4 linked regions of the Homo sapiens genome follow. The protein of the gene in region 2 purifies or fractionates together with the protein of the main gene of each other region. This does not show direct contact. Each region holds a gene or a part of one and is shown on either strand. Other genes may lie near its edges.

Evidence for each region. Proteins that work in one complex are often made in the same cells at the same time.
Region 1: the proteins of IFI27L1 (region 2) and RRP1 purify together in Homo sapiens (affinity purification with mass spectrometry; one large-scale study listed by BioGRID and IntAct). This does not show direct contact.
Region 3: the proteins of IFI27L1 (region 2) and ELOA purify together in Homo sapiens (affinity purification with mass spectrometry; one large-scale study listed by BioGRID and IntAct). This does not show direct contact.
Region 4: the proteins of IFI27L1 (region 2) and MAP9 purify together in Homo sapiens (affinity purification with mass spectrometry; one large-scale study listed by BioGRID and IntAct). This does not show direct contact.

Annotation. Positions count from the first base shown.
Region 1 is NC_000021.9:43,792,442-43,796,113, reverse strand, and holds part of RRP1 (ribosomal RNA processing protein 1 homolog A), read right to left. Parts: intron 3,443-3,672; coding exon 3,385-3,442; intron 2,796-3,384; coding exon 2,710-2,795; intron 926-2,709; coding exon 864-925; intron 1-863. UniProt on the Homo sapiens protein: Plays a critical role in the generation of 28S rRNA.
Region 2 is NC_000014.9:94,080,091-94,084,109, reverse strand, and holds the start of IFI27L1 (interferon alpha-inducible protein 27-like protein 1 precursor), read right to left. Parts: upstream 2,801-4,019; 5' UTR 2,661-2,800; intron 1-2,660. UniProt on the Homo sapiens protein: Plays a role in the apoptotic process and has a pro-apoptotic activity.
Region 3 is NC_000001.11:23,749,836-23,753,507, forward strand, and holds part of ELOA (elongin-A), read left to right. Parts: intron 1-6; coding exon 7-113; intron 114-1,009; coding exon 1,010-2,195; intron 2,196-2,571; coding exon 2,572-2,683; intron 2,684-3,672. UniProt on the Homo sapiens protein: SIII, also known as elongin, is a general transcription elongation factor that increases the RNA polymerase II transcription elongation past template-encoded arresting sites.
Region 4 is NC_000004.12:155,374,129-155,378,514, reverse strand, and holds the start of MAP9 (microtubule-associated protein 9), read left to right. Parts: upstream 1-1,549; 5' UTR 1,550-1,744; exon of another isoform or gene 1,745-2,139; intron 2,140-2,600; 5' UTR 2,601-2,664; coding exon 2,665-2,739; intron 2,740-3,493; coding exon 3,494-3,578; intron 3,579-4,386. UniProt on the Homo sapiens protein: Involved in organization of the bipolar mitotic spindle. Required for bipolar spindle assembly, mitosis progression and cytokinesis. May act by stabilizing interphase microtubules.

The sequences.
Region 1 (3,672 bases), on a different chromosome or scaffold from region 2:
ATCACCTAGGCTAGAGTGCAGTGGCTCAGTCACAGATCACTGCAGCCTCAAACTCCTGGGCTCAAGAGATCCCCTTAACCCACCATAACCAGCCTGCTAATTCTTTTCTATGCATTTATCTAATTTTTGTACTTTTAGTAGAGACACGGTTTCACCATGGTGGCCAGGATGGTCTCGATCTCTTGACCTTGTGATCTGCCCGCCTCGGCCTCCCAAAGTGCTGGGATTACAGATGTGAGCCACCGCGCCCAGCCAATTTACATATTTTTAGAATTAGGAGCAATTAACATTGCTTACAACTTGGGAGGCCTAGGCAGGCAGATTGTTTGAGCCCAAGAGTTTGAGACAAGCCTGGGCAACAGGACAGAACTCGTCTCTACCAAAAAAAGATACAAAAATTACGTGGGCCTGGTGGTGCACATCTGCAGTCCCAGCCAGTTGGGCGGCTGAGGCAGGAGGATCACTTGAGCCCGGGAGGTCAAGGCTGTAGTTGAGCCAAGATCACGCCACTGCACTCCAGCCTAGGCAACAGTGACACCTATTTCAAAAAAACAAAAAGCATTGCTAATGAAGCGGAACATGCCGTGTTTTTATAAGAAGCTCCTCGGCTGGACACCCTTTCATTAAAAAACTCCCTTCTGACTCCCAGTGAGAACTGGCCTCCAAGCCTGAGGATAAATGGCATCATTTCCACAAACACACAAACTGATTTTTACTTTAAAAACTATCTTCTCTCTAAGCACGATTGGGGGCATGCGTTAATATAAAGGCTGACATCTCCTTATGGCAAAGAATCAAATGACAAACACGACTGCGGTCCCCGAGAACAGCGTCCCCCCAGAGCAGGCCCGCCGCGCACCCACCTTTCTTCCCAGCCTTGCATCTTCAGAACCTTCAAGGACTCGTTCAGGACCATCCGCATGAGCTTTGACACAGAAGGAGGTTGGCATTAGCAGAAGCCCAGCCCTACTTCGCCAGACCACCCATCCCCATGTACCACCATCCGCTGCAGGATAAAGTCATGGCCGTGGTGACCTCTGCCGGCCCCAGCACACAGCCGGCCCCCAGAGCTGCTGACAGACAGACGCTGGAGGACACACCACCAAGCCCTCAGAACCCTGGGCTGAGAACATGCCCTATCCCCGGCTCCAAGGCCCCAGCTGGCAGGAAGCAGGTGCATGGGGGGTCGGGGGTAATAGGGGACAGTCCTACGACTCCAGTCCATAAACCGGGGCTGAAACGGAACAGTCCGATTCATAAGGGAGAACCAGGAAAGAGGCACGGCTACCCCCACGGGCGGTGGAGCCCTCCGCAAAACCAGGTCTGAAACACGGCTGGTCCTCACCAAACCCCCCGCAACGGGCAGAATGTAGCTCACTTCCTCTGCGGTCCACTACACAGCGAAGGCCCTCCCGCCAAGCCTCACCCGTGAATCAACAATGCCATTTCCCTCCATGGGGCTCAACACCCTTCTGCAGTTGTCCCCCCTTTAGGCTACTGACCCAGCATGCCCACACGCCCAGAGTGGGGTCTGAGCTGCAGTCAGTAGCAGCAGAGGACACGCGGACCCCCAGGAGCCCCGATGACAGAGCACAGCCCAGCAGCCCGGACACTGTTCTTGCAGACACAGGAGGCCTATCCCCCACAACACCCTGCGGTGCCACCGAGGCTAGCCCTGACGCAAGGCTGTGCTGCTGGACTCAGCCACACAAGGGGCACCCAGAAACGAGCCATGGAAAGCAGCAGAACGCATCCATCCAGGGACCCAGCAGCCACATCTCAGCAAAACAGTAGGGTGGCCTCCCTGCAGAGCCCCATTGTCCCTAAGAGTCTGCACTCTGTCTGAGTGCATGGCCGGGCCCCTGGCCTGCCCTGGAGCCTCCTTCCTTCTTGAGCTCCAGGCCTTTCCCGCCCTGGTCTCCACTTCTAGAATCACTGGTATATATGCTGTCTGCACAATCCTGGCCCGAATCTGAGCTGGACACTGAAGCCAGAGTGGCAGATCAACATCTGTCCTCAGTGAGACCCGGACATGGCCCCTTTCAGTGTCCCCATTGGGTGACCGACTCCTACACAGTGACAATGTCCCTGTATCTCAGGCCTGCTCTAAGGTTACAATGACCACCACCTTAGTAACGAGACCTCATGGTTCAACAAGAGGGAAGGAGGGAAGGAGAGAAGCAGGTCCGGGCAGCAACACGCTGCACCTCTAAACCCCAGTGTTCCCCTGTATTCTCAGGGCAAATCAGTGCCCTGAACGGGGATACAATGAGGGAGGAGGGAAAGGAAGTCCCACACTGTGACCATCCATCCCAGCCTCGCAGGCTAAGCACTCCAGGGCTCATGCTAGGGCGTGACCGCAGCTCCTCTGCTGCGCCTCCAGACTCACTCTGCCTCTTTGACAAGGTAACAACGGTGTCACCATCGACTCTCACCAGGAGAGCAATCGTCACTTTCCTTCTCTGAACCAAAAGTTTGTGTGGTGTTTTAAGGGTCGAATTCCTTGCCCATTCAATGACCCTCAGAGACTGGACAAAGCTGCAGAGCCCTGGTCAGGGACCGCCCAGAGTCTCGGCTCCACCTCCCACCCCTGGCTTCAGGGTCGCACTGCCTCAGGTTGCCTCCCTGCCCAGGTGCCGCCTGTCTCGCTTGGCCAGGCACTGAGACCCGCGCTGCCCCCGCCCGCCGGCACCCTGGTGGCTGCCTCACCATGTAGAATTTATCCAGGCGCAGCCTGTCAATGCCCGTCCACTCGCGATTCATGGTCTGCCAGAAGGCCTGAAGGAACAGGTGCTCTGGAGAAGGAATAAGCCAGAAGAGAACCACTGAGGAGCACGAAGCCACTCTGGGGAGGGAGGTGAGAACATGGAGGAACCCGTTCTTTACATAGCTATAGATAAAAAATGCTGATGCCCAGGCCCTACCCCCAGAACTGGATCTTGCTGGACCAGGATCTGGACATGAGGATTTTTAGAGGCTCCTCAAGTGAGTCCTACAGACAGGCAGGGTAAGAACTTCTCAACTCCGGTCACCAGAGAACAGAGGAGTCAGAAAAATCAACTGCAGGAACCTCAGGACCATCAGGCGGAATTCAGTCCAATCTCTTGGTGACATTATCCTGGCTTTTCACTTTATTTTTAAAGTGTAAGATATTAGCCCATTAGGCTCGAAATGAGGGTTTTGGGTAAATGAGCTAATCCATGTTGAATACTTACACCAGCACTGCACACATGCTAAGCACCCACAGACACCAGCTGGCGCTCTCTTGCCCTTAGGCATTCCTTACTCTGGATTTGAGAACACAAACCTCCTGGGTCTGGTGGCTCTGATGCTCAGAGGTTCTGACATCTACAAATGCACCCAACTACAGCAGAGCATACTCACGCGCCTCCGTGGTCTGAAAAGCATGAACGAGCTGGGAAATAGTCCTTCCTAATTCTTCCTGTGTAGGAAACAACAAAAACGCCCTCAGCCCCTGAAGCACCAGGCTCTCACAATGACACACACGCAACCACCCACTCACCCACTCACTCACTCACTCATCACAGAGAGTCGGCTTCCAGGGGGTCTCAGCTCAGTGCACTGGAGGTTTCACCCCTGCTCCAAAAGACCCCTCTACAGCCAGGGTCAACAGGCTCTCACACAACCACGGGAGGCCCCTCTAGACAGCTG
Region 2 (4,019 bases):
AAAATAGTTTATTCTTACTATTTTTTAAAATTAGAATATTGAGAAGAAGGAAAAAAAATACCTATGTTTCCACTACTATAATGGAAACTTTGCCATCATTTTGCTTTTGGTTGACATCTCCCCCTCCCCCATTTTTAAAAATTAAAATTGACTCTCTTTCTTTCCTTCTTTCTTTTTCTTTTTTTAAAGATGATGTCTTGCTATGTTGTCCATGCTGGACTCACACTCCAGAGCCCAAGCGATCCTCCCTCTTCAGCCTCCTGGATAGCTGGGACTACAGGGATGTGCCACCACACCTGGCTTAAACCAATTTCTTTTTAATTCATAATTTTTAAATCAAAACAATTTACTCAACTCTTTATTTTGAAAAGTTTTAAACCTCAAAAAAGTTGAAAGAATAGTACAATGAACACTCACGTACCCTTACTCTAGCACCAATAATTCACCAATTATTAACATTTTGACTGTGTCCCCCTCTGCCATAATATACTTTTCTTTTTTTCTGAAACCAGCTGATTGATTAGGGTGGTGGTTGCTGAAAGGTGAGGTGCTGTGGCAATTTCTTAAAATAACACAACAATGAAGTTTGCTGCATGGATTGACTCTTCCTTTCATGAAAGATTTCTCAGTAGCATGTGATGCTAATTGGTAGCATTTTATCCACAGTAGAATGTTCAAAATTGTAGTCAATCCTCTCAAACCCTGCCACTGCTTTATCAACTAAGTTTACGAAATATTCTAAATCCTTCATTGTCATTTCAACAGTGTTCCCAGCATCTTCACCAGGAGTAGATTGTATCTCAAGAAACCACTTTCTTTGGTCATACATTAGAAGGAACTGTTCATCCATTCAAGTTTCTCACGAGATTGCCACAATTCAGTCATATCTTCAGGCTCCGCTTGTAATTTTAGTTTTCTTGCTATTTCCAACCACATCTGCAGTTACCTCCTTCACTGAAGTCTTGAACCTCTCAAAGTCATCAATGAGAACTGGAGTCAACTTCTTCCGAACTCTTGTTAATTTTGATATTTTGACATCTTCCCATGAATCACAAATGTTCTTAATGATATCTAAAATAGTGAACCCTTTCCAGAAGGTTTTCAATATACTTTGCCCAGATCCATCAGAGGAATAACTCTCTATGGCAGCCATAGCCTTACGAAATGTATCTTAAGTAATAAAACTTGAAATGCAAAATTACTTCTTGATCCATGGGCTGAAGAATGGATCTTGTGTTCACAGACATGAAAACAACATTCATCTCCTTATACATCTCCATTAGAGCTCTCGTGTGACTATGCACATTTTCAATGAGCAATAATACTTTGAGAGAAATCCTTTTTTCTGAGCAGTAGGCCTCAACAGTGGGCTTAAAATATTCAGTAAACCATGCTATGAACAGTTGTGCTGTCATCCAGGCTTTGTTGTTCTACTTACAGAGCACAGGCAGATTATATTTAGCGTAATTCTTAAGAGACCTAAGATTTTTATAATAGAATGGTAAACAAGCACTGGCTTCAATCCAAAGTCACTAGCTGCATTAGCCTCTAACAAAAGAGTGAGCTTGGCCTTTGAGGCCAGACATTGACCTCTCTAGCTATGAAAGTCCTTGATGGCGTCTTCTTCCAATAGAAGGCTGTTTTGTCTACATTGACTACTTGCTGTTCAGTGGCCACCTTCATCAACGATCTTACCTAGATCTTGGGGATAACTTGCTGCAGCTTCTCCATCAGCATTTGCTGCCTCATCTTACACTTTCATGTTCTGGAGACGGCTTCTTTCCTTAAACCTCATGAAATAATCTCTTCTAGCTTCAAACTTCTATAGCTTCCTCACCTCTCTCAGTCATCATAGAATAGAAGAGAATCAGGGCCTTGCTTTGGATTCGGTTTTGGGTTTAGGGGATGCTGTAGCCGGTTTTATTTTCTATCCAAACCACTAAAATTTTCTCCAAATCAGCAATAAACTGTTTCGCTTTCATATCATTCATGTGTTCATTAGAGTAAAATGTTTAATTTCCTTCAGTAACTTTTCCTTTGCATTCACAAACTGGCTAACTTTTTGGTGCAAACTTTCAGCCTAGCTTTCAGCCTATCTTGCCTTTTGACATCCCTTCCTCACTAAGCTTAACCATTTCTAGCTTTTGAGTTAAAGTGAGAGATGTGCGACTCTTTCTTTCACTTGAACACTTAGAGGCCCATTGTAGGGTTATTAATTGACCTAATTTCAACACTGTTGTGTCTCAGGGAATAGAGACCCAAGGAAAGGGAGAGAGAAGGAAGAACGGCCTGTCAGTGGATTAGTCTGAACACACACAACATTTATCAATTACGTTTGTATCTTATATGGGCACAGCTCATGGCGCCCCAAAACAATTACAATACAAGGAACACTCATCACACGTCACCCTTGTAGCAGAGCACATCTCCCTATGATCTAGGTACGAGCATTGTACCTAGGATGGACGCGTTCGTCCTCTTACCTTCGGGAACGCCCTACTCTGTCTACGGAGTAAAGTACTTAATAAACTTGCTTTTGCTTTGCTATGCGGACTCACCCTGAATTCTTTCCTGTGCAAGATCCAAGAACCCTCTCTTGGGGTCTGGATCGAGACCCCTTTCCGGTAACGAAACTACACTAAGAATACAAGAAAACTTACGTTACTGTGCGGGAGCTGACAAAGTCTCTCGCCGGAGGGAGCACACAGAATTTCACCTTCTCCGGCCTTTTCCCAAGCTGGCAGGAGTAAAGCTGTAAGAGGAGGTGCCAGCGCCCCAAGCCAGCTCTCCCGCCGGCACTGCTGCGGTCCGCGAGGCAGCCAATCAGGTAGCTGAGTTTGCCATAGGGGCGGGACTTCCTCCCCAGCGCGCACGAGTACGTGCGTGGAGGTCCCGCCCCGGAACTGCAGTTGCTGCTGCAGCTGAGGTACAGCGGCGGTTTCTGAGGTTCTTCACTCGCGACTGACGGAGCTGCGGTGGCGTCTCCACACGGTGAGTACCAAAACGAGCGGGGTTGGAGCCGACTCTGGAGAGGGGCTGAGGCCAGGAACCCGGGTTCCTATCGCGGGTCGCTCTGGGCCGGTGGGTTCCCGGGTCCAGAGAGGGCGGCCGCCGGCCCAAGCCGTCCAACCGAGCTGCGTGCCACGGTCCCCGCGCCTTGGGCTCCTTGTCCGGTCATCAGAGCCTGACGGCCTTGGCTTCTCGGCTTCTCGGTTTCTCGGTTTCGTGCGCGCGTTCGTGCCTGAGACAAAGCGAGAGGGCCGCGCGGGACCGGCGTCACGAGGAGACAGAGGCCCTTCTACTCTGCCTGGCGCTCTCCGTGTCCTCGCCCGGTTCGCGTGGCACCCCTCGCCCTCTCCTTGTTGAACCCCGCGTGTTTCTTTGTGTTTTTTTTTGTTTGTTTTTTGTTTTTTTGCCGTGGCGCAGCGGGTCCGGCGGGCACTGTGTGCGAACGTGCTCTCCTCGCCGGGCGCCATGCTCAGCGGTTTTTTTTGACGTGCGTCACTTTTTCGTAGTGGCGTATAAGGATTCTGTGGGACAGATGTCCTCGTTTTTCCCATTGTGCAGACTGGGAAATAAGAGACTCAGAGATTAATACGTCCACCGCAGAGCCACAGCTGACAAGTGGTGGATCTGGATTTGAACCAAAGTTTACCTTGGTCTTTTTCACGGAATCTGTTATCTTTCTTGGCCTTTCTGAAAAGGAAAAACCTGGATCGAGTTCCACCCAAACGAGTTGGGCCTAAATGGCCATTAAGCCACTTAAAATATGATGAAGAAACTGGATGGGTTTTAAGACGCTTGGCAAAGGAAAGGATGGTGGAGCAGGCATTTGCTCTCTCAGGCAAGGCTTGAGAAGGAAGCAAGCGCAGTACGCTTTTAATAAAGCTCACCCCTCCTGCCCCCACAAGAAAAACCCCTGAGATTCTTACTCTGCCTTCAGAACGACTTAGGTGTGGCAGGTTTCATCCTCCGTGCTTTACATAATTTTCTTTATTTACATAAAATGTACAACTTAG
Region 3 (3,672 bases), on a different chromosome or scaffold from region 2:
TTTTAGGAGACTGGGGTTGGGAAAACAGTAAATAGCTTGCGAAAACACGAGCATGTTGGAAGCTTTGCCAGGGACCTAGTGGCCCAGTGGAAGAAGCTGGTTCCTGTGGAACGGTAAGAACATTTCTCTTTAGGTTTGTTCAATTTCATGGTTAAATTTACAGATAGAAAAGGTTTTCTTTATTATTTCTCTTTTGCCTTCTGAAATTGTTTTGCCTCAATTATAAAAAATAATCCATGATCATTGTAGAATATTAGAAAATATTAAAAATAGAAATCAAAATTTCCTATTTCTATCACGCAAAGACAAACGTTATGAACATTTTGGTACGTTTCTTTTTTTTTTTTTTTTTTTTTTTGAGACAGAGTCTCGCTCTGTTGCCCAGGCTGGAGTGCAGTGGCGTGATCTCGGCTCACTGCAAGCTCCGCCTCCCAGGTTCACGCCATTCTCCTGCCTCAGCCTCCTGAGTAGCTGGGACCACAGGCACCCGCCACCACGCCCGGCTAATTTTTTGTATTTTTAGTAGAGACAGGGTTTCGCCGTATTAGCCAGGATAGGATGGTTTTGATCTCCTGACCTCGTGATCTGCCCGCCTCGGCCTCCCAAAGTGCTGGGATTACAGGCGTGAGCCACCGCGGCTGGCCTGGTATGTTTCTTTCTAACTGCTCCTTAAATGGCATTTTTTTAAGTTGTGAACTAGATAAATAGTGAGCAGCCCCCATTTTATATAACAAATTAAACATGTCCCCATGTTTTAATAAATCTCCACATTTTCATGTATATGAGATATTTGATCTTTGCATCTTGTGGTTAAACTCACCATTTCTCATTTGGGTTTTCCCAGTTTTAAGATTTGAGTATCTTTAAGCATAACCTACTTATCTTCTTCTTAAGACCTTGTTGTTTCTAACTCTGCATCTTCACTTCTTTGGTGAGTTCAGATTCTGTGACTTTGTCCCTCAAGAAGCAAGATTTAGACCTACTTTGTCTGCTTTTTCTTTTATTTTAGAAATGCTGAGCCTGATGAACAGGACTTTGAGAAGAGCAATTCCCGAAAGCGCCCTCGGGATGCCCTGCAGAAGGAGGAGGAGATGGAGGGGGACTACCAAGAAACCTGGAAAGCCACGGGGAGCCGATCCTATAGCCCTGACCACAGGCAGAAGAAACATAGGAAACTCTCGGAGCTCGAGAGACCTCACAAAGTGTCTCACGGTCATGAGAGGAGAGATGAGAGAAAGAGGTGTCACAGAATGTCACCAACTTACTCTTCAGACCCTGAGTCTTCTGATTATGGCCATGTTCAATCCCCTCCATCTTGTACCAGTCCTCATCAGATGTACGTCGACCACTACAGATCCCTGGAGGAGGACCAGGAGCCCATTGTTTCACACCAGAAGCCTGGGAAAGGCCACAGCAATGCCTTTCAGGACAGACTCGGGGCCAGCCAAGAACGACACCTGGGTGAACCCCATGGGAAAGGGGTTGTGAGTCAAAACAAGGAGCACAAATCTTCCCACAAGGACAAACGCCCCGTGGATGCCAAGAGTGATGAGAAGGCCTCTGTGGTGAGCAGAGAGAAATCACACAAGGCCCTCTCCAAAGAGGAGAACCGAAGGCCACCCTCAGGGGACAATGCAAGGGAGAAACCGCCCTCTAGTGGCGTAAAGAAAGAGAAGGACAGAGAGGGCAGCAGCCTGAAGAAGAAGTGTTTGCCTCCCTCAGAGGCCGCTTCAGACAACCACCTGAAAAAGCCAAAGCACAGAGACCCAGAGAAAGCCAAATTGGACAAAAGCAAGCAAGGTCTGGACAGCTTTGACACAGGAAAAGGAGCAGGAGACCTGTTGCCCAAGGTAAAAGAGAAGGGTTCTAACAACCTAAAGACTCCAGAAGGGAAAGTCAAAACTAATTTGGATAGAAAGTCACTGGGCTCCCTCCCTAAAGTTGAGGAGACAGATATGGAGGATGAATTCGAGCAGCCAACCATGTCTTTTGAATCCTACCTCAGCTATGACCAGCCCCGGAAGAAAAAGAAAAAGATTGTGAAAACTTCAGCCACGGCACTTGGAGATAAAGGACTTAAAAAAAATGACTCTAAAAGCACTGGTAAAAACTTGGACTCAGTTCAGAAATTACCCAAGGTGAACAAAACCAAGTCAGAGAAGCCGGCTGGAGCTGATTTAGCCAAGCTGAGAAAGGTAACCCCTTCAGCCCCTTGGTGGCTTCCCACCCAGAGCACCTGGCCCTGCAGAGCTCAGAGGATTGCCCTGCCACTGTTTTCCTTAGCTTGCTTTTGGGGGGCATGTTGAATTTCAGTGTGCAGTAATTTCCTCTGGGCTTCACTGGTTGTCAGGGTATATGGTACCGCAAATAAGAATTTTCTGCATTATTCTCTTGTGATGGGCTCATCTGTATTTATTTCCTGACTGAGGTGGTGTCAGACATGACTGTGGCCCCCTCCAACCTGGATCTTCCTGTGCAAGATGTCCAGTTAATGCTCCCGGGAATAGACTGTAGGAAAGAGAGCTGTGCTTCTACTCACTGACTCTCCACCCATGGGTCTGTCCCCTGCAGGTGCCTGATGTGTTGCCAGTGTTGCCAGACCTCCCGTTACCCGCGATACAGGCCAATTACCGTCCACTGCCTTCCCTCGAGCTGATATCCTCCTTCCAGCCAAAGCGAAAAGGTAATTTTCTATATCTTCTTTTTCTTAATGGGAAAAAGATTTAAAAATTCATTCAAGGCAGGGTACAGTGGCTCACACCTATAATTCCAGCACTTTGGGAGGCCGAGGTAAGAGGATTGCTTGCGGCCAAGGGTTCTAAACCAACCAGGCGTGGTGGCTCACTCCTGTAATCCCAGCACTTTGGGAGGCCGAGGCGGGCAGATCACCTTAGGTAAGAAGTTCGAGATTAGCCTGGCCAACATGGTGAAACCCTGTCTCTACTAAAAATACAAAAATTAGCCAGGCATGGTGGTGCGTGCCTGTAATCCCAGCTACTCCGGAGGCTGAGGCAGGAGAATTGCTTGAACCTGGGAGGTGGAGGTTGCAGTGGGCCGAGATTACGCCATTGCACTCAAGCCTGGGTGACAAGAGGGAAACTCTATTTCAAAAAAAAGGAGTTCTAAACCACCCTGGTCAACACAGCAAGATGCTGTCTCTACAAGAGAAAAAAAGTAGCCAGGCATGGTGGCACATCCCAGGTACTCGGTAGGCTGAGGTGGGAGTATCACTTGAGCCCAGGAGTTCAAGGCTGCAGTGAGCTCTGATTGCATCACTGCACTCTAGCTTGGGTGACAGAGCAAGACTGTTTCAAAAACAAACAAAAAAACTATCACCATAACATCAGATTTTTGATGCATTTCCTAAGTGCATAGACTCTGAAGTTTGATGGCTTGGGTTTGAATCCCAACTCTGGTTTCTGCAAGTTATATGACCTTGAGAAATATCTTAATTTCTTTGGACCTTAGTTGTATATATTGTGTAAATGGGAGTTATAATGGTATCTGCCCCATAGGGCTCAGTTTAATGAATTCAGAAGTGATGCCTTTTTGCTCTGGGTTTATCACATAGTAATTGTTCAGTAAATTGCTGCTGCTGTTATTAGCAGCCCTTTATCCTATGTGTTACATAGGATTTTTGTCTGAAAGAAAAAAATGTCTAATTTTCATAGC
Region 4 (4,386 bases), on a different chromosome or scaffold from region 2:
GGATAGGTTGGCTGTAGATATTCAGTGAATGTGGGAGAAGGGCCTATATATCTATTGATGACAGAAACTGAGAAATAGAACATAGAATATTGGCTTGTGAGGAGGAAGGGTTTGGAGTAATAGGAGAGCAGTCACTGAGTATGTGAGGACCTAGGAGAACTTAGAAATCTTCCTTCTACAGCAGTCCCTATTTGAAAAGCCCTCAGGGAGATAGTTTATTCAGAAAATAGTTTTGCTTAGCTAAGATAAGAATGCGATTATAGAGGAAAAAGTGAGAGAATGTTTTACAGTGGAAAGGAGGTTCCAGGAGCATGAGGTGAACCTGGAAGGGTTCAACAGTAGTGCCATGAGTTAATAGAAAATAGGGAGCATTTTCTATTCTGGGTATGTGTGTGTAGAGGTGGTGTACATTTTCAGCTTCATAAATGGATACAGATGAGTGGACATATATATATAATATATTATATAATATATATTATATATATAATATATTATATAATATATATAATATAATATATATATACTATTAGTTCTGTCCATCTAGAGAACCCTGATTAATACAGCATTGTATTTTACTAAATTTCTTATTTCTTGTTATGCACATTTAGTTTTTCAATACATTGATTTATTAAATTTCTATCTCAATGTGATTTGTTTATACAAAATTGAATTAGTGAAATATTAACATATTTTAGAGATGTGGAAAAAATACCAGGTATGAGTTTAATTACTAGTCAATGAATTCATTCAGATAATTCAACTAGGATTAAGCTTTTTAAAAATTAAAAATAGTAAAAATTCATATTATTTTAAAGACTTTCAATAAACGTTTTTGGTTTTTATTTGCTTTAAGAATTTCCTATGCGAATTAAATGATGTTGATTTTGTTTACTTTAGTAGCACATGCTCTTTTAGCCTAGTGGATCATTTTGTTTGGTTTGATTGGAATAAGATTACTCACTAAGTATACAAAGAGGGGGAGTTTTACATTCAAGTAAGATGTCAAATGGGCTTTCAGTTGTGTCCACAAGAGCTGAGGTCTCTCCAGGCCCTTTGCGGCTTAGTTGCATGAAGAGCATATCTAATATCGAATACAATTCCAGGCACTCTTCCAAGTGTTCCACTTGTATTATTTCATTCAATTTTACAGCAACCTTTCAGGTGTCTATTATTAGTACACTTTTGTTTTCCCCCAGAAGAAGAAACTGAGTCATAAAGACCTTAACTTGGGACAATCACGTGTGTAGGAAAGGGGTACCAGGATTCAAACCTGCAGTCGGAAACAGGGTTCTGCAAACTCACTACCGTACTATTCTGTCCCATCCACTGACACCGTACTTCGATTCAGAGAACTTCACGTCCTAACTGTGGCAAAACGACGAATGTGCTTTATTTGCAACACGTGCAGATAAGGACCCTTACTCTATTGGCAAGAGTAAGGCTATCTGGGTGGGAGTTGGGCGGGTCCTGTCTCCTAGGCAACAGCACATGCACACAAGCGACCAATAATGAGCCCCTCTCCAAAGACCCAGGAAGGTGATGTCACTTCCTTCGTCTGGGTGGTTGCCCCAGCGACACGTTGGGCCGAAGAGCGGTGTTGGGTACCCGAGAGACCCGGCGGTGGGGAAGTCACTTCCTCCCGAAGACGCTGTTTCCTAGCAACCGCCCTCCGCCTCTGTTATTAGCCCCTCCTCCTCGCTCGGTCCAGGACCGGCTCTGCGGGCGCCGCCAGGCCCAGACCAAGGTGAGCAGCTCCTACCCGATGCTTGGCTCTTGATTCTCAGGGTCGCGGAGAACTGGCCGCGGGCGTCCGGGGCCGGGAACAGAAAGCGGGACCTGGGGGCCATGGGGGATCCGGACAGAGACCGCGCTTGGACGTGCACGGGCCTGGCGTTCGCTGGTGCTCAGCATACGGCGCGGTGAGGAGCGGCGAGCACCCGGACGTCACCTGGCCTGGTAGGGAACGGAACCCGGGGCGCACAACGCTATGGGCGGCCCTGCCAGGCCTCTGCTCCGAGTACGGGAAACCGCGATTTTAATGCGGCTCATCGCGAAAGCTTCGTCGTTTTGTCTGGCTCTCTTTAACACTTTTGTGAGAGGAAAAATTGGCTTGCAATACATCTCGCTGGCTGTTTGCGGGTTAGCATTACGATCTTTTTCTTTGAATAGCGCTGTATGCAAATATATAGATACATTTTTTTTTTGGTGGTGGTGCTCATAATTTTTACGCCGACGATCCTTTTGATGGCCTTTTAAATAAGACGTGACTTATTTTGAAGGCAATGTTATACTTTAGAAGAGAGGTGAAAAATAAGGTGTTCTATTTTAATTGGCAGCATTTTGTCGTATTAACTTGTAATCATTTATTTGCAGACTTTTTAAGTAGTTGCAAAACTATTTTAGGATAACTTCCATTTGAATTTTTTTAAACAAGCTTGTTATGAGAATTTGCTATTTCTTTACAAGAACCTTTTTAAGTGAAGATGTAGCCCAATGTTCATATCAGATGCTTTTCTTTGACCTTTGTGGGGAGAGTAGAATCAAATGTAATAAAATAAATTCTGAAGCATGCGAAGTCTGATTTGTTTTGTATATTTCAGCTACTATCAGAAGTTGAATTCTAATAATTAGCTATTTTATAAAGGTAACGAGAAAAAATACACTATGTCTGATGAAGTTTTTAGCACCACTTTGGCATATACAAAGAGTCCAAAAGTTACCAAAAGAACTACTTTCCAGGTAAAGTATTTTTATTTGGAATCATTTCACAGTGTAAACACTGTATTAGATGGGTTGAAATTGGTGATTCTAGAACAGTCCTATATAAAGCAGGGGTAAATCTTATATTACTTTTGAGGTTTTGCACATGATCATGTTTGGGCTCCATCCAGTATTACAAACTCCCCTATATGGTTTTAAGACTACCAAAGTAGCCTCAATACTAGTTTCCTACTAAGTTAAAAGTTGAATCGCAACCTTAAATTGCCATTTTTATATAAAAACTTTTTTTTCTGTTGTAACATAATGTTTAAGTTTTTTTTTCTGTTGAGTCACTGCAATTTTGAACTCAGCCTCTAAGTTTGCAATATTGATTGCATCCATTTCTGAAATATGCCGAGACAAAAGCTCTTAAAAATACCAATTTCTTTCAAAATACCAGTTTTTAATAAATTATAATCTAAATTGAGCCCCTTCTTATTTGTTACCCTCCAGCTCTAATTATAACCTGCAATTAATTTGTTCCATAATGTGTGTCTCCTCTAGTTAAACTGCGAGCTCCATGAGGAAGGGCTCTTGTCTGTGATGCTCTGCATTGAGTATGAGGCGTAAAGTGGGTACATGGCATAAAGTGAGCTTGCAGGAAATATTTGTTAGATGAATGAAACCTAAGTTTGAAAGCAGTCGTTAATCAAGCATTGTTTGTTTAAAGAATTACTTGTGAATATGATACCTCCATGTTTGGATGGAAATTGATTTCAGTATCTCATTTCAGGATGAGCTAATAAGAGCAATTACAGCTCGCTCAGCCAGACAAAGGAGTTCTGAATACTCAGATGACTTTGACAGTGATGAGATTGGTATGTGACAGTATGGAAACGTGAACCACTTTTCTTCTTTTTGCTTCCTTAGTTTTGTATTTAGCCAGCCCCCCAACCACCCATCCCCTCAATCACGTATGTTAAAATAATACCTAAGCATTCACTAATTTTAGATTTTCAACTTTTTAATTAGTAGAAAGCCACTCTTAATTTTCAGGAAGTTGTATGATTTTCTTTTTTTATTGTTGTTTTGTTTTCTGAATGTGTATACGAAAATATAAATTAATTGATGGCAGGTTTGCAGTAAAAGGATGGCTGCCAGTGGTAAACCACATTGAAGAAGACAGGTTCATCTTTAAGATCAACCCTAGGAGGTGCTACAGCTAGTTAGTAACTAGTCCCACAGAACTAAACTTCGGTGCACATTAGAAGTGCTTTTATAAAGCTTGCTATAAATCAGATTTTTTTTGGCTGTGATAAGGGGTAAATTTAAAAACCACAGACTCTTCGTGTTTCATATATCAGTACTATTATAATTTGGTTTCTCTTAGCTATGTAAACATATTAACATTTTAGTTTCAGGTATAAGCATACAGAATTCTAAACTTGGTGTTTTTGTTTGTTTGTTTTTGTTTTTGAGATGGAGTCTCGCTCAGTTGCTCAAGCTGGAGTGCAGTGGTGCAATCTCGGCTCACTGCAACCTCCACCTCCCAGGTTCAAGTGATTCTCCTCCTTCAGCCTCCTGAGTAGCTGGGACTACAGGTGCCCGCCACCATGCCCGGCTAATTTTTGTATTTTTAGTAGAGATGGGGTTTCACCACATCGGCCAGGCTGGTCTCGAACTCCT